Homo sapiens: one gene and its partners. The gene in region 6 interacts genetically with the main gene of each other region. Each region holds a gene or a part of one and is shown on either strand. Other genes may lie near its edges.

The links.
Region 1: changes in SREBF2 (region 6) and EIF2AK4 together harm fitness more than expected from each alone (negative genetic interaction), as found in Homo sapiens cells (one large-scale study listed by BioGRID).
Region 2: changes in SREBF2 (region 6) and XRN1 together harm fitness less than expected from each alone (positive genetic interaction), as found in Homo sapiens cells (one large-scale study listed by BioGRID).
Region 3: changes in SREBF2 (region 6) and PTGDR2 together harm fitness less than expected from each alone (positive genetic interaction), as found in Homo sapiens cells (one large-scale study listed by BioGRID).
Region 4: changes in SREBF2 (region 6) and EXOC3L2 together harm fitness less than expected from each alone (positive genetic interaction), as found in Homo sapiens cells (one large-scale study listed by BioGRID).
Region 5: changes in SREBF2 (region 6) and EAF1 together harm fitness more than expected from each alone (negative genetic interaction), as found in Homo sapiens cells (one large-scale study listed by BioGRID).
Region 7: changes in SREBF2 (region 6) and MRM2 together harm fitness more than expected from each alone (negative genetic interaction), as found in Homo sapiens cells (one large-scale study listed by BioGRID).

What each region holds. Positions count from the first base shown.
Region 1 is NC_000015.10:39,965,115-39,968,614, reverse strand, and holds part of EIF2AK4 (eIF-2-alpha kinase GCN2), read right to left. Parts: intron 2,930-3,500; coding exon 2,772-2,929; intron 1,272-2,771; coding exon 736-1,271; intron 1-735. UniProt on the Homo sapiens protein: Metabolic-stress sensing protein kinase that phosphorylates the alpha subunit of eukaryotic translation initiation factor 2 (EIF2S1/eIF-2-alpha) in response to low amino acid availability.
Region 2 is NC_000003.12:142,417,038-142,420,537, forward strand, and holds part of XRN1 (5'-3' exoribonuclease 1), read right to left. Parts: intron 1,845-3,500; coding exon 1,778-1,844; intron 1,573-1,777; coding exon 1,467-1,572; coding exon of another isoform or gene 1,433-1,466; exon of another isoform or gene 804-1,432; intron 193-803; coding exon 103-192; intron 1-102. UniProt on the Homo sapiens protein: Major 5'-3' exoribonuclease involved in mRNA decay. Required for the 5'-3'-processing of the G4 tetraplex-containing DNA and RNA substrates. The kinetic of hydrolysis is faster for G4 RNA tetraplex than for G4 DNA tetraplex and monomeric RNA tetraplex.
Region 3 is NC_000011.10:60,853,151-60,857,221, reverse strand, and holds the start of PTGDR2 (prostaglandin D2 receptor 2), read left to right. Parts: upstream 1-1,271; 5' UTR 1,272-1,353; intron 1,354-3,490; 5' UTR 3,491-3,499; coding exon 3,500-4,071.
Region 4 is NC_000019.10:45,228,408-45,231,907, reverse strand, and holds part of EXOC3L2 (exocyst complex component 3-like protein 2), read left to right. Parts: intron 1-33; coding exon 34-145; intron 146-3,500.
Region 5 is NC_000003.12:15,430,598-15,434,097, forward strand, and holds part of EAF1 (ELL-associated factor 1), read left to right. Parts: intron 1-1,489; coding exon 1,490-1,626; intron 1,627-3,500. UniProt on the Homo sapiens protein: Acts as a transcriptional transactivator of ELL and ELL2 elongation activities.
Region 6 is NC_000022.11:41,867,605-41,871,104, reverse strand, and holds part of SREBF2 (sterol regulatory element-binding protein 2), read right to left. Parts: intron 2,495-3,500; coding exon 2,313-2,494; intron 217-2,312; coding exon 70-216; intron 1-69.
Region 7 is NC_000007.14:2,236,451-2,239,205, reverse strand, and holds part of MRM2 (rRNA methyltransferase 2, mitochondrial), read left to right. Parts: intron 1-2,755. UniProt on the Homo sapiens protein: S-adenosyl-L-methionine-dependent 2'-O-ribose methyltransferase that catalyzes the formation of 2'-O-methyluridine at position 1369 (Um1369) in the 16S mitochondrial large subunit ribosomal RNA (mtLSU rRNA), a universally conserved modification in the peptidyl transferase domain of the mtLSU rRNA.

The DNA of each region.
Region 1 (3,500 bases), on a different chromosome or scaffold from region 6:
GCAGGATAGCTGGACCAGAGGAGCATCTGGAAAAATCCAGACTGAAGGGATCTTATCTCCCATTTAACAGAAACTGACAGAACTTAGCTCTGGCTTGGACTGAAAACAGAGGCAGGACGAAATTAGAAAACACTTAAGTGAAGGACCTGGACAAACATCTTAGGCCTGAGGAAACATCTCAAGAAGGGTTCTCCCAAATTGGATAAAACTTGGCTTTGTAATTAAACATGCACCTGTGATTTACAGGTATTGAAACTCCTCTGGCTAGACTAAGGAAGTTATTTGCATTCTACAACTTAAATGAATGAGACAGCCAATGAAGAATGGTTAAGAAGCACAAGGGGCAGAATCTCACTCCCAAAGCTGTTTTTGAATAAGGAGCCTCGTCTTTGACCCTTTAGGAACCAGAGCAAAGGTCAGTATTTGGAATACCTAGGGCATTTCTCACCATAACCATCTCTATTGACTTCCAAGAGTATCCCATCAGTCCCCCAAAAGGAGTTTGAAAATCAAGTGTGAATTCCAAGTGAATTTCAGAGAATGTGGTAGTTAAGAGAATCACCAACCTACATGAGAAAACAGAACATATGAGACTAGGACAGGATTGGGAGAGCAAAGAATGAAGTCCTGTTCCTCACTTCTCAGCTTCCACATCACTTAGATGTCTGGCACACTCCAGCACAATCAAAAGTACAGGAGTAAAGTGCTATTAGAGAGAATCTCAGTGATACTCACTTCTTTAGAAAATCTTGAAAGTCAGCTGGTAAGTCACTAGGGATGGTCACAGGGTACTCTCCACATTCCTGTCCTTGGCTGAGGGACAGCAGCAGAAGGCCAAGACGCCAAACATCTCCTTTCTTCCCCGTTTTATAAGGCAGAGCATTGTCACTAAAACGAACTCGGGTTTGCTCAAACACATCCTCCTTGCAAATGTCTGCGAGGCGCTTAGAAATGCTATAGTCCGTAATCTTGACGGTGCCTTCTGCATCCACCAAGACATTAGATGCACTCAGGACCTTATGCACCACAGAATTGCTGTGCAGATAATCAAGGCCTGACAGGAGCTGAGCTGTGTACCTGCGAAGCTGATGCACAGGGATGGGGCCTGAGTGGCTCAGGTGTGCAGCAAGAGAGACCCCACTAATGTGCTCCACTAAAATGTCCACCACGATGGAGTCGTCTTGCTCTTTGAGATTCATTGCAAGGTAGCGTACTACATTTGGATGGCTCAATTTTACCAGTGAGTTGAATTCTGTTTCTGTTCCTTGAATCTGATAAGTTAAAAAAAAAAAAAAAGAATATTGGGCCAGTCAACATTAACTTGGGTTTCATTTCAAAAGTGAAGTATTTGATCATACAAGATGGGGGCATAAAAAAACAAAACCAAAACCAAAAGTGAAGTATTTGATAGAAAATATACTTTCAAATGAGAGGAGAACAAATATGCCCTAAACTGAATCCTCCCCAAACCATATGGTCAATCTAATAGTTCATAAAGATGGAAAAAATTTAGCTAATTCTCAACTTCTCTAATCTCAAAACCTACTATGCATATACTACAAAATTAGTGAACAGTTTTTAAAATAAAATTCTTTTGAGGTATAGCCACTAGAAAAAACAAACTTTAATTTAAAAATAACCTTTTCTGATTAGCTTTGTATTTGGGTTTTTAAAAATATAGTATATGATTTGAGCAGCAGAATAATGGCCACATCCTAATCCTCAGAACCTCACATGGCAAAGAGGAGTTAAGGTTGAAGACAGAAAAAAAAAATCTTTTCTGATTTAATAAAGATCATTGTCAACATTTAAAAAATTAGTTTGATAGAAAATACCCACATGTTATCTATGTGGTCACCACCCAGTGATAACTCAAGATTTTGGCACATTTACTTTCAGTTTTCTTTCTATACTTAAATACACACACATTTCTGAACACCATGCTTTATCTACGTTTTTGTAAACCTTGTTATTATGTAACACTGCAATATGCAATACTGAATGTTCTCCTTATGCTTGGTTATAAATCATAATTTATAAATTAACTTAAAAATCCTCCGGTCCCCCAAAATTCAGTTTTGAAGCAGTATTTTTCTTTTCTTTTTTTTTTTTTGGAGACAGGGTCTTGCTCTATCACCCAGGTTGCAGTTCAGTGGCATGAACACAGCTCACTGCAGCCTCAACCTCCTGGGCTCAAGCAATTATCCCACCTCAGCCTCCCGGGCTCAAGCAATTATCCCACCTCAGCCTCCCAAGCAGCTGGGACCACAAGTATGTGCCACCATGCCCACAGATTTTTAAATTTTTTGTAGAGACAGGGTTTCACCATGTTGCCCAGACTGGTCTCAACCTCCTGGGCTCAAGTAGTCCTCCTACCTTGGCCTCCCAAAGTGCTGGGATTACAGGTATGAGTCACTACACCCAGCCCTGAAGCAATATTTCAAGAGTAGGGAAAAGAAGAATTGCAAAAAAACCCAATTATGAACTAGTATTTAGTCCCAGTTGGAAAGATGACTGTTAATGCCATACTAAGGGCTAAGAAAGGAGGTTAAGAAGGCAGCTGGAAGTGCTTTGATCATGTTGTGAAAGTTCTGAAACCAGAGGCAAGGGGCAAAGAGGTACTGGTCCTTCACTGTCCTCCCTGGTCAAACAGTTCTCATACTGCTCTGGACCATCTCTGCAGGGCAAACAAATGCAGGGCTATTTTGTTCTGTCATCTCCTAAAGCCTGAGATTAGGCCTTTTGCTCAGTCAGCCACCTTGGATGCTTACCTGCTTTTTGCACTTATCAATCTTCTCTTTTTCTTGACTGGTAAGGAATGGACCCATTTTTTTCTGCCACTGAAGGACCCACTCATACAACAAGACAAAGCCACCAGTGGCTGTTTCCAAAGCATTGTAGACTAATTTTCCAAGTTGTTCATCACTGCCTGCACATTAAACAGAAAGTGTAATTAAATCCCACTGGTATGTTTTCTCTTGGGGGAAGGAAGGGAGGGGGTAATACACATTCTTTAGTTCAACAATGGATACCATGCGCTAACTATGGAAAATAGGACTTTATGTAATAATGTCCTTTTGTAAACAATTTTTGATATTTAGCAATATACCTGAGTCCTAAAATAATTTTTTATAAGGGGCAAGAATCTACAATGAGATCTTAGTATCAGGCAAATAAAGAGACCAATGTTTGGCCAGGCGTGGTGGCTCACGCCTGTAATCCCAGCATTTTGGAAGGCCAAGGCAGATGGATCACCTGAGGTCAGGAGTTCGAGACCAGCCTGGACAACATGGTGAAACCCCGTCGCTACTAAAAATACAAAAAAATTAGCCAGGTTTGGTGGCGGGCACTTGGAGTCTCAGCTACTTGGGAGGCTGAGGCAGGAGAATCGCTTGAACCTGGGAGGCGGAGGTTGCAGTGAGCCTACAACGCACCATTGCACTCCAGCCTGGGCGACAAGAGCAAGACTCTGTCTCAAAAAACAAAAGAGGCCAGTGTTT
Region 2 (3,500 bases), on a different chromosome or scaffold from region 6:
TTACCATAAGTAGAAATAAAAGGAAGTGCTTCCTAAATAAGACTCTAGTAGAATGAATCATTATAAAAAGACAAAACTTTATTTTTGTTTTTATTCTCTCACCAGCTCCAGGACTGAACTCCATGATAGTAATAGTGCAAAATCCACTGTATTGCCTGAACATAACATGCAGCTTGATCAGCCAGAAAGTCACTGAAAATAGAATATTTTCATTATAACATATTTTCTGAAGACAGGCCCGTGTCTTTAGAGCACGGTATCTGCTGATACAACATTTTACCTCAGATGATTTATTTAATCAATGAATTAGCTATTTATGGCTAAAAATTATAATCCTAAAAACTCCAAAATATTTTTAAAAATTACATCCTGTCACATGACAGTTTTCCTAAACCAACTATCAAAATAGATAAGTCTGTTATTCATATTTACTCAGTTAATGTACCACTCCCTTGGTCCAAAGGTTGAAGATTTACCCAATGAAGCTTTCCATAGTGACACTACCACTCTCTTAAATAGTGGGGGTGAGACGGGAGAAAGGGATGGGAATCTTCTTTACATGGGATGATATCTGAGAGAAGCAAAGCAGCAAATCAGGAAGATCTTAAAATTTGGTCACAGAAGCTAGAATGCTTTCAGAAGTGCTGTATGTGAACAATATTCCTTCTAATCCTTTCTTTGTCAAAAACCAAATGCCATCTTCTAAGTTTGGGTAAAATAAGTCTTCAAATCATCAAAACAAAACAAAACAGAGCCCTGGGCTAAAGGCAAAAATATTCACTTAGAAATTACATAACTACATATTTCTGGGAGGTAGTTTTTTAATATGAAAAATATTGCTTTTTTATTATAAAAGAACTATTTCCTCAGGAGTGAAAATCTGGACAATGAAGAACAGCATTTTTATCATCTTATAGCCATCACTTTTACATTTTTAGTGTTTCAGTCTTTTATCTATATCTAGGTTTTTTTAAGGTTAATGAGAGCATACTGTATGTATGATTTCATGTCTTGCCTTTACAATTTGTACTTAATAATGTACTATAAGCATCCTTCCAAATTGTTATGAACTTTCTGCAAGTACCAGTTTAGCAGTTCTGCAGATTCCGGAGATGGAAGAGGTGACAGAGATGGTGACTGTAATGAAGAAGCAGTGGCCAATTATGATGAACCTTCTTATTGGACATTTAGATTATTTCTAATTTTTTTACTATTATAAACAACTTTGTAACAAAAATCCTTATACATAAGGATCATTTTCTCTTCAGCAATTTTTATCACAGGAATATAATACAAGTCAGAATTAATACCATCTTCTCCAAAACCAGACTAGTTGAAACATACACAATAATTCATGAAACCAAAAAATCCTTTTTCTCCCACTACTTCATCAAAATCATATTTTCTGAATAACTGCAAAATCTAATTTTTTCTATTTTAAAATAAAAGCATTGGCAAAAACGTACTCAGATACTACGTCAACCCCCATCTTCGTCATGTAATATGTTCTTTTATATTGTCTAAACTCAGTTTCAAATAGGTCATCATCTTCAGTCTCATCTTCTAAATTATCTGGGGAAAAAAGTCAGAAAGATAGTGACTGACAATTATGAATAGCCTGTTTTTCCACCTAATGATTTGATAAATGCATATCCAAGTTGATGCTTATATGCTATCACAGAAATCTGTTCCACCCAAAATTAGTAATAATAAATAAAAGGTATAACAATTATCCTGTCAAAGTAGTAACATATCAAAACACATACTTCATACTTACCCTTAGAAGTTATCATTTCGCCTTCATTTTTGTCTAAAGCAGTCCAACACAGAGAATTTTCCTGGCCCTGTAAATTGTAAATCAACATAAAATGAATGGCAAGATACATTTCAAAATGAGATGTCATTTCTCTTCCATGCACCCATTTGCTTTTCTATAGTTCTTCCATGTTATAACATCCTTCATATCCTGCCCATCTGTTTTTCCTCCCTTGTGATCTCAATCCTTTCTCTCCTCTATTCTCTGATTTCCTGTCTACTGCCAATGACTCTCTTTAGTTCTTCCTACTCCCTTATCCCCATTTCCTTTCTTTCATCCAACTTATGGCCTCTACCAACTTCCTGTGTCTGGGCTATTCCTGCACAGTGTCTCTAAAGTTAGCTGCATATGGCTGGAAGACTGGTGAAGTTTAAGTACTGAATTGTGGTGGGGGAGCCAGGGATTACTGACAGGTAAGTTTTGTGTGTACAGGTTCCCAAAAAGTTGCAGAGCCCGTTTTCTTAGGGGGGGAAAAAAAAAGACACACACACACACACAAAAACCAGTGGAATGCAGACTGACTGCTGCCAAGTTCCAGTGAGGAAGAGCTAAGCAGCGAGAAGGACTACACTAGAGAAAACAAGGACAGTTGCCCCTCCTGGAGCAAGAGTCATTAAGTTTGAACCTAAATAGAACCAGTACAGCAAGGAGAGTAAGAAGCTCAACAGAATCTTGGCCGGGCACGGTGGCTCACGCCTGTAATCCCAGGACTTAAGGGAGGCCAAGGTGGGCAGATCACGAGGTCAGGAGTTCGAGACCAGCATTACCAACATAGTGAAACCCCGTCTCTACTAAAAATACAAAAATTAGCTGGGTGGTGGCGCGCACCTCTAATCCCAGGTACTCAGGAGGCTGAGGCAGGGGAATTCAAGCGAACCCAGGAGGTAGAGGTTGCAGTGAGCCAAGATCGCGCCACTGCACTCCAGCCTGAGTGACAGAGTGACATGCTGTCTCCAAAAAAAAAAAAAAGAAACTCAGCAGAATCCAATAATTACAGAGAGGCTGAAGAATTTTTCACAAGAGGTTTACTTTTCAAGTTAACACAAGACATTCTTTGGAGATTATCAGAGATGCTCTGCAGGGTACTATCATATTCTAATTGATTCTATTATTCATTTATTAAGCACATAACATTTACTAGATATTGTGCTATTAGGCTGGCACAAAAGTAATTGTGGTTTTTGCCATTACTATTAACTTAGACTATTGTATTTTATATGTAAATCATTTCTAGAGAAAAATCACTGATCTAGTTAATGTCTCATATCATTAAACACTATAAATATCCACATTTTAAAAACTAGTCCATTGTTTTAAAATAACAATTTTTTTTTAATTAAAAAAAAATTGCCAGGGGAAAGTGTGAATGCAGTCCTCCACTACCATAAGTCACGCAGTTCAGTTTCCCACATTTGGCGAAATCGCAGGGCATCAGCACATCCAGAGTGCAATGGATAAACCTCGCCCTGGGAAAACTACCTTCATGATCATGGTATCCTCCCTGTCAGGTTTTAAATAATTGTTTTTCTTTTTTATGAGACAGAGTCTCACTCTATCAGCCAGGCTGGAGTGCAGTGGCTCAGTCTTGGCTCACTGCAACCTCTGTCTCCCAGGTTCAAGTGATTCTCGTGCCTCAGCCTCCCAAGTAGCTGGGATTACAGGTGTGTGCCACCACATCCAACTA
Region 3 (4,071 bases), on a different chromosome or scaffold from region 6:
CTGCGTTAAGACTAGGCCTAAATGGAAGATGCTTGTGCTGTCCATCTCATGGGAGGTGCCTTTGCCTCGATACAGGGATATTGAGTTCTTAAAATGTTTTAATGAGTATCCATTAGGTGCTGAGATGCTGAGGTTGAAGGGATGGTCCTGACCCCAGGAAGCTTGGTCAGCAAATGAGAGTAAGGAGTTAGGGAACAATGAAATGCAAACTTCTCTTATCCTAGGGCTTTGAGCCTGTGTGTTTTTTTGTTTGTTTGTTTTTGTTTTTTAGTTTAAATTTCCATTTTTTTTTTTTTGAGATGGAGTTTTTACTCTGTCACCCAGGTTGGAGTGCAGTGGTGTGATCTCGGCTCAATGCAACCTCCACCTCCTGGGTTTAAGCGATTCTCATGCCTCAGCCTCCCAAGTAGCTGGGGTTACAGGCATGTGCCACCACGCCTGGCTGAGTTTTGTATTTTTAGTACAGACAGGGGTTTTGCCACATTGGCCAGTCTGGTCTTGAACTCCTGACCTCAAGTGATCCATCCGCCTCGGCCTCCCAAAATTGAGCCTGTTTTAAATAAAAGCTATATGACCTTTGCCTTAGAGCCTATATTCATTTTTCCCTCAGAGGAGAAGGAAGCTGATTTTTATAAGCACTTACTGTGTGCCACGAGCTTTGTGCAATCCATCTCATTCAACCCTTACCACAGCCTGTAAGGCCGATGTTACTGCTCCCGTTCACAGATGACAACCCCAGGGCTCAGCAAACAGAAGTGACTGACCTCTTGGACTGCGTTCTTGCCACTGCCCCCACTACCCCACTGTACTTTCCTGGCCTTAGAGCCCTCGGGTCCCTCATGGACAGGCCCCCACACTGCCTGGGAAACTCAGAACAGCTGGAGGGGTTTCTTCTCTGAGGATTCTGGTGTCGGGAGATGGAAGCCCAGGAACAGTGGACAGATGGATGAGACATTCTCCTTCTCACGCACTTATCCTACACACTGGTCACTCTCAAAAGCACACCCCTAGTCACACTCGGGCTCACACTCTCTTGCACACATCGATTTTTTCACGTGCACTTGCACTGCCCTCTGGACTTCTGCAGTCTCCTTCATGAAGCGGGGATGGGTGGAGCAGGGGCTGCCGGCATTGATGGAAATTGATGATATTTGAACATCTGTGTGGCAACTCACTCTCCAGCTGTCCCCGCCTCCCCCAACCCCACCCCTAAACACACATGCACTGGGGCTGACAGCTATTTCCTCTCTCAGCCTCCCTCTCCCACCTCTGTCTGCCCGCTGCCTCTTGTCTAGCTGCTGTCAGGAGCTGACTGCCTCCAGGGCTGGAATCCTGTGCTCCCTCTGTGCCCAGGTAAGGAGGAGTGGCCCAGGGGTTGGGCAGCCTAGTGCCCTCTCTAGACCCACAGAAGAAGGCAAAGTTTTACCAGGTGAGAGGGCTGTTACCAGCTAGGATGGCAGAAGATTGAGTTTACCAAAGACTGGAGGGGACTTGGTGCTCAGAGGAGGGAAGGATTAGCTTCTCTTAGGCATTAACTAGATGTCAGATACGAGGGGAAACCACTCAACTGTCTGTCAATATTCACAAGCAGTCTGGGTGGGAAGATGACACCAGCACGCTTAGAGTAACTGGCCCAAGGTCACGCAGCCAGGAAGCTGAGGAGCTGGGATTCAAACCCAGGTCTTGGACTCCCACAGCTTGCACTCTCTGTCCCTTTTTTTTTTTTTTTTTCTTAACCTGCCAAAGCCGGACCTTAGCTGCTTGGCTCCTGAGAATCCTGGGAGGCTGGGGGCTGTCTCTATAGAGTTAGAAGGACTGATCTGGTGGTGCCCAAGGGTGTGGCAGGACTGTGCTCTCTGATCATCCCCATAGGACTTGGATCAGCAGCAGCTGGTCTGCAGGGAATGTTTCAGGGCAGACAGCGGGTGGTACTTGGCTATCTGCTGGGAGTGAAGTCCCAGCCCCACTGTTGCAGCTGAGGAACGCTGGGCAAGTTGTTGTTTCTTCTTCTGAAAAATGGGGTGTCATAGGTTCATTGCAAGAGTAACTGCTCTGCACATTCTAAAGCCTAGGAAGTATGACCATTCTCAGGAAGCACAGGCTCCTCTTCCATCTACCTGCAGGTCTCTAGCTCCAAGGGGCTCCTCCGCCAGCAGAATTCTAGTTTGATATTCCAGAACCCCACTCTACAAAGGACTGTGGTCTCTGGAAGGGAGTGGGTTTTCTCATCCTGGCCAACAGTGTTTTCCCTAGAAAGATGAGTACTGAAGACCATTGCTCCCCTCTCCCGCTTTTCTTCCTCCTCCTCCATCCTCTCTTCCTTGGAGTAGGGGTAGAGGAAAGAGCACAGGCTGAGCATGAAACTTTCTCCTCCACATGTTTGTGCTGTCTGGGTGGCTCTGGGCCAGTTATTTAACCACTTGAGGCTCAGTTTTCTCATCTGTAAAATAGGATGGAGTACTAGCACCATTTTTCTAGAGCCAGAAAGACAGCACCTATGTGAAGGACCTACCATAGTACCTGGAGTGTCATTGGTGCCCAGGACACCCTGAGTCCCTGTCCCCTGCTACTTGCCTCCTACCTCCTGCATGGAGCCTCATGGAATTTCCTCAGCCCTCACTGGTCTTGACCAGCCTCACATCAGATGGTCTTTCGGGCTTTCAATGAGGATGTAAGCATGCACGTCTTATTTGTTGGATGAGTGCATGATGGAGTAAGTGAATGAACAGGGGTGGGTTTCCTGGGGCGGAGAGAGCTGCTGTGGCTGCTCCTGAGAAGGGAGAGATCTTTTGGCCCCACTGGGCCTCCAGAGCCCCATGTGGGAGTTCCTCCTCCCCAGCTCTCCTGGCTCTTATCTTATTTCCTCTCCAACCATCAGAGGAGGGGCTGGTTCCACTGTTTATGGTCGGCACATCTAACCAGCCACCACTGAGTGCGGGGAGCTGCATGGAGGATCTGTAGAGAGGCAACATCTGGGGGCGCTGTGGATGCTGTGGGAAGGGGCAGCATCTCCATCGCCCAGGCCAGCAGAATCCTCTTGCCCTAATTGTGGGGCCTCCTTCACCCGCCAGTGCTCTGGGGATGGGAAAAAGGAGTCCTGTGTGGCCTGACCTTGTTCCTTTTTCTCTGTGTGATCTTAGACCATTTGCTCCATAATCATCACAATGACACTGATAAAGTGCTTGCTCTGTGCCAGGCCATGTTCTAAATGCTTTTATGTATTAAACTCACTTAATTCTCCCAATAACTCTATGAGCTAGGTGATGTTATGACTGACATCCAAGTTTCAGAGGCAGAAAAAGGCTCGGGAAGGTTAAATGACTTGCCCAAGCACAGCAATGCTGGGATATTATTCCCCCCACCCCCACCGCCCAATATATTCGTGGGTCACATTGGCATCTCCTGGGCAGGGTCCCACTCCGGGCCTCTCTCTTGGTTCCCCGGTGGCCTCTGCACTTCCAACTTAGGCGCCTCCTTCCCTCCACTGCAGAGCCCCACGATGTCGGCCAACGCCACACTGAAGCCACTCTGCCCCATCCTGGAGCAGATGAGCCGTCTCCAGAGCCACAGCAACACCAGCATCCGCTACATCGACCACGCGGCCGTGCTGCTGCACGGGCTGGCCTCGCTGCTGGGCCTGGTGGAGAATGGAGTCATCCTCTTCGTGGTGGGCTGCCGCATGCGCCAGACCGTGGTCACCACCTGGGTGCTGCACCTGGCGCTGTCCGACCTGTTGGCCTCTGCTTCCCTGCCCTTCTTCACCTACTTCTTGGCCGTGGGCCACTCGTGGGAGCTGGGCACCACCTTCTGCAAACTGCACTCCTCCATCTTCTTTCTCAACATGTTCGCCAGCGGCTTCCTGCTCAGCGCCATCAGCCTGGACCGCTGCCTGCAGGTGGTGCGGCCGGTGTGGGCGCAGAACCACCGCACCGTGGCCGCGGCGCACAAAGTCTGCCTGGTGCTTTGGGCACTAGCGGTGCTCAACACGGTGCCCTATTTCGTGTTCCGGGACACCATCTCGCGGCTGGACGGGCGCATTATGTGCTACTACAATGTGCTGCTCCTGAACCC
Region 4 (3,500 bases), on a different chromosome or scaffold from region 6:
ACAGACCTCCTTTTCTCTCACCCCCATCCCCAGAGAGGTCCTAGGGCTGGTGGACATGGCCGCCCTGGAGAATGGGGAGCTGGGGCCCCTTCTCTCCCCTGGCACCCTGCGGGGTTTGGAGGATGAATGCGTCACAGATGTTAAGGTACCTGGAACTTTGCATTTTGGAAGCAGGAGGTGCTGTGGAGGGAGGGGGTCACAGTGGGCTTGGGAAGCCTGTCCCCTCCACCTTTCACTCTTTCCAACTCCCTTTTCCCTTTACGAACTTCTGAGTTCTATCCATGTGCCATAGACACAAAGGCCGCTGTACAGAGACACTTGGTAAAGGTTCAGTATATCTGGACACTTCAAACCTTAGAGTACAAGAAAGTTAGTCACAGAACTACAGCTCACAGGCCCAAAGACTCACAGAAGTATAGCATCAAAGATTTTTTTTTTTTTTTTTTTTTTGAGGCAGGGTCTCGCTCTGTTGCCAGGCTGGAGCATTGACCTCCTGGACTCAAGCGATCCTCCTGCCTCAGCCTCTCCAGTAGCTGGCACCATAGGCACGTGCCATCAGGCCTGGCTGACAAAGATCTTCACATATAAGCAGGGCTGGTAATAAACATGGTTAATTACTGAACCTGCACAGACACCGCTGAGCAGAATGGCCCAGCCATGCACGCCGTCCCCGGCTACAGTGATGTTTGCTGTCTCAATTCCAGTCCTACTTCCAGCCACAGAAATCAGTCAATGCTACTTAAGAGCCTAGAACCATAGAAAAGAGATCTGGATCCTTAAACTCATCAAATTGAGGATTATACTTTTTTATTTTTTTAATTACAGATGTCTCCCTCTTTTGCCCAGGCTGGAGTGCAGTGGCATGATTACAGCTCACTACAGCCTCGAACTCCTGGGTTCAAGGGATCTTCCCACCTCAGCCTCCTGAGTAGCTGGGATTACAGGCACACACCACCATGCCTGGATAATTTAAAAAAAAAAAATTTGCAGAGACAGGGTCTTGCCATTTTGCCCAGGCTAGTCTCAAAATCCTGGCCTCAAGTGATCCTCCAGCCTCAGCCTTCCAAAGCTCTAGGAGTATAAGCATGAGTCACCCCAGCCGAGACAACACATTTGATCAGAGAATCAGAGATGTGAGAACCTTTGCAGCCCAGCCTTTGGAGTTCTTGAAACACAGAATCTGAGAATCTTAAACTAACTGTTTGGCAGAACCTGAGAGCAGAGTCTTGGGACCAAAAGACAATAAAACATAGACCCTTGGCCGGGCGCGGTGGCTCACACCTGTAATCCCAGCACTTTGGGAGGCTGAGGTGGGAGGATTTCTTGAGGCCAGGAGTTCAAGACCAGCCTGGACAACATAGCAAGACTGTCTCTGTTTTAAAACTTTTGTGGCCGGGCACAGTGGCTCACGCCTGTAATCCCAGCACTTTGGGAGGCCGAGGCGGGTGGATCACGAGGTCAGGAGATTGAGACCATCCTGGCTAACACAGTGAAACCCCGTCTCTAGTAAAAATACAAAAAATTAGCTGGGCATGGTGGCGGGTGCCTATAGTCCCAGCTACTCTGGAGGCTGAGGCAGGAGAATGGCGTGAACCCGGGAGACGGAGCTTGCAGTGAGCCGAGATCGCACCACTGCACTCCAGCCTGGGCGACAGAGCGAGACTCCATCTCAAAAACAAAACAAAACAAAACAAAAATGTTTTGTAAAACATTTTAAAAGTTAGCTGGGTGTGGTGGCACGTGCCTGTAGTCTCAGCTACTCAAGAATCTGAGGCGGGAGGATTGAGTCCAGGAGTGTGAGGCTGCAGTGAGCCATGATGGTACCACTGCACACCAGCCTGGGGGACAGAGCAAGACGTGGCCTCTAAAGAAAAACAATATTTAATATAAATAATACTTCATACATATCATAATATGTAATAATAGGATTTATATTTAATATAAATATTAAGTATACATTATTTGTGTATACATATTAACATATAAATGTGTATATTATAAATAATATACAATAATATATTATATTATAGCTTTATTTATAATGTACACATATATATATTTTGAGACGGAGTTTCACTCTTGTTGCCTAGGCTGGAGTGCAGTGGCACAAACTCGGCTCACCGCAACCTCCTCCTCCCGGGTTCAAGTGATTGTCCTGCCTCAGCCTCCCAAGTAGCTGGGATTACAGGCATGCGCCACCATGCCCGGCTAATTTTGTATTTTTAGTAGAAAAGGGGTTTCTACATGTTGTTCAGGCTGGTCTTGAACTCCCAACCTCAGGTGATCTGCCCATCTTGGCCTCCCAAAGTGCTGGGATTACAGGCATAAGCCACCGCACCTGGTCACATGTATCTATATTATTTATAATATATTATTTATAATATGTATTATTGATTTATATTTAATATTTATATGTTAATATAGATTACATATTTCATGTGCTATAGTATATAATACATACTAATTATTAATATATAAATAACGTATTATGAATTATTAATATACACATTATATAGCTTATACTAATATTTAATATATAAATATATTACATATATAACATATATTTAATACATAAATATATGTATATATTTAATACATAAATATATGTATATATTTAATACATAAATATATGTATATATTTAATACATAAATATATGTATATATTTAATACATAAATATATGTATATATTTAATACATAAATATATGTATATATTTAATTATACACACACGTGCACACACACACAATTAAGCCCTTGCTTATTAGATGGAGGAAGCTTAAAACCATGGACTAATTTTATTTTATCTATTTATTTATTATTTTTTAATTTATTTTTTTGAGATGGAGTCTCACTCTGTTGCCCAGGCTGGAGTGCAGTGGCACAATCTCGGCTCACTGCAAGCTCCGTCTCCCGGGTTCACGCCATTCTCCTGCCTCAGCCTCCTGAGTAGCTGGGACTACAGGCGCCCACCACCACGCCCGGCTAATTTTTTGTATTTTTAGTGGAGACGGGGTTTCACCGTGTTAGCCAGGATGGTCTCCATCTCCTGACCTCGTGATCCACCCGCCTCGACCTCCCAAAGTGCTGGGATTACAGGCGTGAGCCACCGCGCCCAGCCTATTTTATTTTTATTTTTGAGTTGGAGTCTCACCCTGTTGCCCAGGCGGGAGTGCAATGGCATGATCTCCACTCACTGCAACCTCTGTCTCCCAGGTTGAAGCAATTCTCCTGCCTCTGCCTCCTGAGTAGCTGGGATTACAGACACGCACCACCACGCCCAGCTAATTTTTGTATTTTTAGTAGAGACGGGGTTTCTCCATGTTGGCCAGGCTGGTCTTGAACTGTTGACCTTAGGTGATCCGCCAACCTCAGCCTCCCAAAGAGATTACATGTGTGAGCCATCGCGCTTGGCCAAACCAGACTTTTAATATGAAGTTCCAAACCACAGAGTTAGGAGTGGGAAGGGCTGCAGAAGTTTTCTGGCTCAGCCTCCCTCCCCA
Region 5 (3,500 bases), on a different chromosome or scaffold from region 6:
GAAAAGCCCTAGGTGCCCTGCTGATTATATGGCCACAACAGCTCAGGAGTGTGAGGCAACCAAGCCAGGAGTTAAGGCAGGCAGGAACCACAGGTGTGGCACATTCAGCTGATTTAGGGATGAAGAACTAAATTGAAAGCTGGATTAAGAACCCTTGCAGAGAAAGACTTTTGTGAAGCTCTGCCCAAGGCAGCACTAATGACAAAGCACCAAAGGGTCACATGATGCTCTTAGTGAACATGTGTTATTGCATGTCACACCCCTGTCCTGGAACATAAGTTCTCGGTAGCTGGAGACAGAATGAAAAGTCTCTGGACAGGGAGATCTGGAAAGCTTTGTGGTGAGGAAAAATTGCCCATTCAAACTGCTGTTTGATTACTTGTTACCTTTGGCAAGTTACATCATCTCCCTTTGGACCTTAGTTTCCCATATGTAAAATGAAAGGTTTAGAAAAATGGTCCCTAAAGTTCTTTCTAGCTCTATATTTTTACTATATAAATAAGGAGTCAAAGAGCCAAGCAGTTTTTTATTCTAAGCAAGGCATTAAATATGATATTCAACAAATATTAATCAAATGCCTCCCACACATTGGCCCATTACTAGGCATGAAGTATATAACCTTGAACAAAACAAGCACATTTCTTGCCCTGGTGGAGCTTATGGTCTGGAGTTTAAATTAATACAAGAAAATATAGCAGTTATTCTACAAAATCAGGGACAGCTTCCTTAAGGAAGTATCTGTGAGCAGATCTGGAGGTTGGGTCATTTAAAGAGAGGGGGCAGGATATAGCTGGCAGAAGCCTTGTTAAAGCTGGCAGAAGCCTTGTTAAAGCCCAGAGGCAGGAGAGAGCTTGAGGATAGGAGGGAAGCCAGTTGCCTTCTGCTCTGAAGCACATGCGCAGGGGAGTATGCTGCAGGGTGAGGTGGAGAGCCAGGGAAGGGCCCGGTAGTGCAAGGCCAAGTGGCTAGTTTAAAGATTTTATCCTTTGGCCTGAGAGCAATTGAGGAGTGATTGAAAGGCTTAGGCAGATGAGTGACATGATTTATTTATTCTGAGCCAACCAGGATAATGACCTTCTCTTGGAAAATGCTCTGTTGGTTGCTTGACATGAGAAGGGGAAACCCTGGTCTCTCTAATGACAAAGAAATAGAGATCACTCACAGTTTTACTATACAGAGTGATAACTCTGCTTAGTATAATGAAAGTAATGGTTAATTTTTCTCTCTTGGAACGTATATAGTAATTAAAACTTTTATACTACCTTTTTGATTACTTAGAACGCGTTGCACATTCACAAATTCTTGCTATATTATTTCTCCTTTATTTTTGCCTCGGAAACCAGAAGGAGATAAAATAGAAATCAGTTCAACCTGTTCTTTTTGAATAGCTCTGATAAAAGATTTCATCAGGTGGAGTCATCTATAAATTCAGTTGATATTCATAACTGGTATGTTTAGTTTGATCATCTTATACTTTTGTGGCAAATAGGGATCCACACCACCCATGACTGTGTTCAAGGGGAACAAACGGCCTTACCAGAAAGACTGTGTGCTTATTATTAATCATGACACTGGTGAATATGTGCTGGAAAAACTCAGTAGCAGCATTCAGGTGAAGAAAACAAGGTATGTGAATAGCCAGATGCAGGTTTATATCATGTTTCCAAACCTCTGTTATCTATTCAGTTTTTATAAGGTTGTGAACATCTGCTTGCTCATAGTGTTCTATCAATAATCTTAACACTACCTGTGCTCAGACAAAATATGTAAATATGTGCTCAGAGTAAAATATGTCTTCCTCAAATGCAATAAAAAGAAATAATGTTTTTTAAGACCTAAAACATGGGAACCATTAGGGAAAGGGGGATATACTTTATAATTAAGCCTATTTTGTTAATCTCATGATTGCTACAGTACCACCTAAGGGATAAGATAACTTATAGACTTATAATTATGAAGGAGCAATATATACTATACTTAACTGGAGTGAAAACATTAATTTTTTTACAAGATACATTTGAGATTACTATAATACCAAAATAAAACTTTGCCTATTTTTTAATATAGTGAACTCTTTAATTCAACAGTTGCTACATGTCTAAAATGAAGCCAGTTAGAGTTTATTTGAAAATAAAAATTCATTCTATAAATAGAAATAACCTAGTGGTTCTATTTGTTACCATATAATACAGTATTTTTTTTTTTTTAAAGAGTCGAGGTCTCTTGCTGTGTCACCCAGGCTGGAGTGCAGTGGCATAATCATAGCTCACTTATAATACAGTAATTATTATAATACAGTAATTAAATTGTAAAGATTGTCACAACCTGATGTTTTTTATGCTTCGTTAAGCCATTTTTTTTTCATTCATTCATTCCACAGAAAATAAAAATAGGTACCATTTATTGAGGGGGTATCATGTCCCAGGCACTCTGCTAGATGCTTTATATGCATTGTTTTATCTAACAAGTAATTTTTAGAAAGGTGTTATTATTATTTTTTACTTCTTTTGTTAAAAATATGGAATTGTTCATGAGTTTGTGTGTCATCCTTGCACAGGGGCCATGCTAATCTTCTCTGTATCATTCCAATTTTAGTATATGTGCTGCCGAAGTGAGTACGAAAGGTGCTATTATCTAAAAAAAAAAAAAAAAAAAAAAAGGTACGGAGACTGAGGGTTAGAGAGCTTGACCTACCCCGGAGAGTGTGCTGCAGAGTCCTTGCTCCTGTCCTGCCACTCTATTTATTTGTATTCATTACCTACAGTGAACCAGGTGCTACCGATATTCCTCCAATATCTGATGGTTGTGGTATATTCCCTTACTACTCAGTGTGATATGGGAACTAACAGTATCATATTACCTAGATGATATGCAGAATCTCAACACCTATGAGATCTGAATCTGCAGAGATCACCAGGTGATTTGTGCATAAGCAAAAGTTTTAGAAGCACTAGGCTAGTCCATTTACAAAAGAAATTGTTAACTGATAGAATATTCTCAGCTTGGGATGGAATTCTGCTTGTCTGCCAGCAAGAGCTGGCATGTGATGAAATGAACAAGCAGTATATAGATAATGGAAAAAATTTTCAAGCTGGGCAATATTTTAGGAGCTACTTTATTTAGGAACTCATGCACTCATGATTATAATTACATAATGATGTTTTGGTCAGTAGTGACCTACATATATGACAGTGGTCCCTTAAGATTCTAATGGAGCATGTATGGAAACCTGATATACGGCACTTGATATTGGCATTGCAGATCAAGTAGGGGGAATGACTGATATTCAATTATGGTGGTGGGACATTTGGGTTTTCATGTGAAAAAATTATATGCTATATTGGTTTGCATAAGTACATTCTGCTGTTTGCATGATGAAATCACCTCATGATGCAGTTCTCAGGACTTACCCTCATTGTTAAGGGATGCATGAATGTATTTTCTACTAGTAAAATGGATTTTCATAGTTTCATTATATCCTACATTTGTTTGCTATACAT
Region 6 (3,500 bases):
ATCTCTGAAGACTAACACCTCCAGGAATAAAGGGGGAGGGAGGAGGGTGGGGGAGAAGGCAGCTCTTACTGGTACTTGAAGGGCAGCCGTCTGGATAGGGGTGGTGAGGGCGGTGAGGGCCGGGTTCTGGACCGCAGCCATAACAGGGCTGCCATCTGTCTTCAGTGTGGTCAAAACAAGGGAATCTGTCTTGATGATCTGAGGCTGGACCAGGACCTGGATGAAGAAGGAAGAAAAGTAAAAGGATGATAGCATTATCCTTCTGTTATGCATTCCTTTCTTACTGCATAGACCTTCCAAGAAAGAATGAGAAATGATATAATTTTTATGAAATTGAGAATAAAAAAATGAACAGGAAATTTCATAGAGGCCATTTCAAAAGCCGGCTATTTTGTACAGCCTGAATACCGGGTTCAGGTGGAGAAAGAGGGGCTAGCTAATGAGGGTCCTGGCTTTTTTTTTTTTTTTTTTTTTTTGCTGAGACAGGGTTGCTCTCTGTTGCCCAGGCTGGAGTGCAGTGGTGCAATCTCAGCTCACTGCAGCCTTGACCTCCCGGGCTCAAGTGATCCTGCTGCCTCAGCCTCCTGAGTAGCTGGGACTACAGGTGTGTGCCACCATGCCTGGCTAATTGTTTGTATTTTTTTGTAGAGACAGGGTTTCACCATGTTGCCCAGGCTGGTCCTGAACTTTTGGGTTCAAGAAATCCACCTGCCTCAGCCTCCCAAAGTGCTGAGATTACAGGCGTGAGCCATGGTGCTCAGCCAGGTCATGGGTTTTTAGGTTGAAAGACTTTCAAGAGGGTGGTGCCAGTGGCCCAGCAGGAGCAGAGCAGAGATGGGTAGGGTGGATGGCAGAGAGGAGAGAAAAGACTCAGGAAAGCCAGACACATGGCTGAGAAGCAAAAATAATAAACCTGATTTTTTTAAGATAAATTGTTAGTAAGAAAATATAGGCCAGATGTGGTGGCTCATGCTTGTAATCCCAGCACTTTGGGAGACCAAGGCAGGTGGATCATGAGGTCAGGAGTTTGAGACCAGCCTAACCAACATGGTGAAACCCTGTCTCTACTAAAAATACAAAAATTAGCTGGGCGTGATGGCGCGTGCCTGGAATCCCAGCTACTCGGGAGGCCGAGGCAGGAGAATTGCTTGAACCCAGGAGGCTGAGGTTGCACAGTGAGCCGAGATCGTGCCACTGCACTCCAGCCTGGGCGACAGAGCAAGACTCTCAAAAAAAAAAAAAGAAAAAAGAGGATATAGTCCACGATGATATATAACATAAAGACGTTTTTTGTGATTATAAAAATAATACACGTCCCCCAGCTGGGCACAGTGGCTCCCACCTGTAGTCTCAGCACTTTGGGAGGCCGAGATCGATGCACTGTTTGAGGCCAGGAGTTCAAAACCAGCCTGGCCAACCTGGAGAAACCCCATCTCTACTAAAAATACAAAAAACTAGCCAGGTGCAGTGGCAGGTGCTTGTAATCCCAGCTACTTGGGAGGCTGAGGCAGGAGAATCGCTTGAACCTGGTAGGCGGGGGTTGCAGGGAGCCAAGATCACGCCACTGCACTCCAACCTGGGCAACAAGAGCAAAACTGTCTCCAAAAAAAAAAAATTAAAAAAAAGATTAATAATACATGCCCCCCCTCCCCCCAACCCAATATATGTTCAGGATCCACAGCAGAAAATATGGAGAACAGAAAACTATGAAAGCCAAGGGCAGTGGCTCACGTCTGTAATCCCAGCACTTTGGGAGGCCGAGGCGGGTGGATCACAAGGTCAGAAGTTCAAGCCAGCCTGGCCAACATCCCGTCTCTACTAAAAATATAAAAATTAGCCGGGTGTGGTGGCACATGCCTGTAGTCCCAGCTACTCGGGAGGCTGAAGCAGCAGAACTGCTTGAACCCGGGAGGCGGAGGTTATAGTGAGCTGAGACCACACCACTCCACTCCAGCTTGGGCAACAGAATGAGACTCCGTCTCAAAACAACAACAACAACAAAAAAACACAACACAAAACTATGAAAAAGAAAATTATCTGGGAAATACCAATTTAGCACATTTCTTTCCAGTTTTATGCCCATTACATGTGTACGTAAGTGACTGCACCAGCCTTTCCTGAGTGCCAGTGTCTATCTACAGATATGGACTCAGCCAGGTCACTATACGCTGCTCACAGGTGCATCCTGGCGCCCTACAAGCTGCTTTGTGTACACTCTGGTTGGTCCTTCTTAGTATGTAGACCACATCTTCAACCAAGGACCAGTTAACAGCCCCAACCAGTGCCTCCCTGAATCCTTTCCAGCCACTTACCGGGACCTGCTGCACCTGTGGCGCAGCAACTGTCTGCACCGTAGCCGGGGCAAGGGTCTGCAGCGTGCCATTGGCCGTTTGTGTCAGCACCCGCTGGGCCTGTACTGTCTGCACCTGCTGCTGAATGGTGACCGGCTGTACCTGGGAGGATGTCACCAGGCTTTGGACTTGAGGCTGAAGGACTTGGGAGAAGAGGAGAAAGAAGGCACAGAGATGAGGAATGCATTCTGTCACTGCAGCTGCAGCAGAAACCTGAGGATGGAGTATCTCATAATGATTCCAACTCCCCACCTACTGCTGAAGATGATGTGCACAGCCATTTACAAGGTGGCTTAGACAACAAGAACATCCCATAAGGGCTGCATCAATTTCTGAGGGAACGAGTACAAATTGTTTTATTACTCTGGGTGCCAGGGTGGGGGAAAGGGAAGCTAATCAGCAAATGACTGCACCCAGCAAGGGAGTTAACAGATGTTGAGAATCAACAACTCCCTGGGGCTTCATTTTCTTCCATCCTTTCTGGACGGCAAGTGCACTTTGGGAGGACTGTCTCAGCTTTTTGCCTTTACATTCCCCCACCTGTCCCAATTCTTGAACTCCATTGAAGAACTATAAGATTCTTTGAAATTCAAAGCAATACTAATCTTACCCTGGGCTCCCCACAGAGTCAGAGGGAAATATGATGAAAAGGCACTGGGATGCAGCACATCACAGAAAGAACAGGCCCCTTTCAGTCATCCATTCCCTCAACACATACTAAGGGCCCAGCATGAGGCTTGCTACTTGAAGCTGCTGCACCTATATTAAAAGTCATATTCATCACCATAGTGGATGCTCAGATGTTTGCTGAATGAATAGTTCTCAACTGTGGCAGCTGAGATCTGGCTGCCGCCTAGCCAATTTCAAGCCTTATTCAAGTCTCCACCACTAGTTATCAGAATGGCCCTGTGTCTACTATGCTTGCTGGATTTTTTTTTTTCTTTTTAAGATGGGAGTCTCGCTCTGTTGCCTAGGCTGGAGTGCAGTGGCACGATCTCTGCTCACTGCAAGCTCTGCCTCCCGGGTTCACGCCATTCTCCTGCCTCAGCCTCCCGAGTAGCTGGGACTACAGGCGCCCGCCACCATGCCCGGCTAATTTTTTCTATTTTTTAGTAGAGATGGGGTTTCACTGAGTTAGCCAGGATGGTC
Region 7 (2,755 bases), on a different chromosome or scaffold from region 6:
TCACCTCGCATGAGACCGCCCGCAGGTACCAGCACCAGCATGGTGGTGTGCATCCTTCCAGGCTTGTGCATGCATAGATCCCTCACATTTTCAAAAGCGATGTTGTGCCATACTTTTCTTGCTAATTTGCAGCCTATTGGAGCTATTTTTGCTTAATGATACATACATATATGTATTATATATATATATATATATATATATATATATATATATATATATATATATATAATTATTATTGTTATTATTTTTGTTCTTCCCCCCCCTCCAGATGGAGTCTCACTCTTGCCCAGGCTGCAGTGCAATGGTGTGATCTCGGCTCACTGCAACCTCTGCCTACCTGGTTCAAGCGATTCTCCTGCCTCAGCCTCCCAAGTAGCTGGGATTACAGGCGCCCGCCACCGCACCCAGCTAATTTTTTCTTTTTGTTTTTTTAAGTAGAGATAGGGTTTCACTATGTTGGCTAGGCTGATCTCGAACTCTTGACCTCAGGTGATCTGCCCACCTCGGCCTCCCAAAGTGCTGGGATTACAGATGTGAGCCATGGTGCCCGGCTACTCTTAATGATGTATTGACATCTTTCCCCAACAGCACAGCTAAATTTCCAAGTCGCATAAGCCCTGGGGCTTTCCTGGTGGCCCCACTGGGGCTGCTCCGTCCGGAACCTAGAAGAGGCTTCATGGCCAGGGCTATGGATTCTTTGCTCTGGATGAAGCTGAGACACAGTTTTCATCTGTTTTGTATCTTAGGGTTTTGAGTAAGATTTTCTATATAAAAAGGTTCTCCTGAATAATGAGATCAGCCAACCGCCCATGCAACTGAAGACACTGTCGTCATTGGGAAAGTTTCATCCTATTCCATGTAGTGCTTGCACCGTAGGTTCTTTAACCAGCTCCCTCACTGTGGCATCAAGGTTGCTTTTGGCTTTTGGCTGGGATGCGTGTGCTGTGGTGAATATCCTTGCCATTTATGTTTCCTGCTGTAAAGCCAGGGTAGCTGCATGCACTGGCATTTGAACAGGGTGAGACAGTCCACCCAGAGCTCTCCCAAGTCTCTCCCAAATACCTTAGAGTAGGGACACTGGTCCCCATTTATTGGTGAGAAAACAGGCTCAGGGTTTCATGACTTGTTGAAAGTGCAGAAATGGAATGCTGGCCCCCTGGATCTGCACATCTGCCTCGCTGCTGGTTTGCGGTAGGTTTGCCATGAACTCTTGGTGTCTACCTGCATCCCCTTGGGTGGCCCCTGCCCATACTTAGGCGGGGATATGCCTCTTCGGGCTTTTCAACAGCATTTTTTTTTTTTTTTTTTTTTTTTGTTTATAGAGCCTCACTCTGTTGCCCAGGCTGGAGTGCAATGGCGCCATCTCGGCTCACTGTAATCTTTGCCTCCTGTGTTTAAGTGATTTCCGGCTAATTTTTGTATGTTTAGTAGAGATGAGGTTTTGCCATGTTGGCCAGGCTGGTCTCGAACTCCAGGCCTCAGGTGATCCGCCCGCCTCTGCCTCCCAGCATCCTCGAGGTGCTTCCTGGTGCTTCCATCGTGGTCAGCCTGAAAGCCTTTTTATTGTTTTTCAGCTCAACATTTATTGACTAAATAAGTGAATTTGTGTTGGAAATGTCAGTTCCTTTTCTCATTGCTGAGCTTATCACCGTGGAGTCCTCCTAGTAACTGATTTCAGTGGTTTCTGTTCCCCTAAGTGCTCTTGAGATGAAGCAGGAGAGTGGCCCAGCGTGCCTTGTAGGAGGAAGTGACAGAAGGAGAGAGCGTGAGCGTGATCTGCCTGGGCTTGTCCTCCCGGAAGTCACAAGCATGCAGCCAAAGCTGTTTGCCTTCGGTGGAAATTTCCGAAGGTTGTAACATACTGGATATTATAGGAGTGAAAGCTCAGGAGCATAAAGTGAGGCGTGAGGCCGGGCGCAGTGGCTCACACCTGTAATCCCAGTACTTTGGGAGGCCAAGGGGAGGATCACCTGAGGTCAGGAGTTCGAGACCAGCCTGGGCAATATGGTGAAACCCCCGTCTCTACAAAAAATTAGCCAGGTGTGGTGGCATGTTCCTGTGGTCCTAGCTCCTTGGGAAGCTGAGGTGGCAGGGGTCGCTCGAACCTGGGGAAGTCAAGGCTGCAGTGAGCTGAGGCCGTGCAACGGAGTGAGGCCTTGTCTCACACACACACACACAAAGACACACAAAGATAACTTGCTGATATTTGAGTAACACCAGTTTGCTAAAACTAAAAAGATGCCTTTGTGTCACCTTACGTAAAACAAGACTTGTTGCCTATAACTGATCTCAGCATCTGCCTCCCCCTCTTCTCACTCTGTACCTACATTCAAAGCCCCCTCTTCACAAGCCCAACGCCCCCATCTCCCCAACAGTCCCCTCCACTGAGGAGGGCCGTAGTTCTGTTGAGAAATTGTCAGAGTTGATAAGCTAAGGGTACAGTCACAGATTTTCTTGTTCAGTCTGCTTAACAGAAAGGCTGTTCCAACGGTAGGGGGAGAGAAAGGGACCGTGTTTCATTCCTAGTGTAAACATTGGAAGTCCAGGTATTTTGAAGATTACCTCATTTTTCAAAGGCGAAACCCCTCAGTCTTCACCCCAGGAAAATGGGACGCCTCACGCCTCATTTTAGCTGGGTCTCCTGAGTAGCTGAGACTACAGCTAATTTTTATATTTTTTTGTAGAGACAGGATCTTGCTATGTTGCCCAGGCTGGACTAGAACTCCTGGGCTCAAGTAATCCTCTTGCTTCAGCC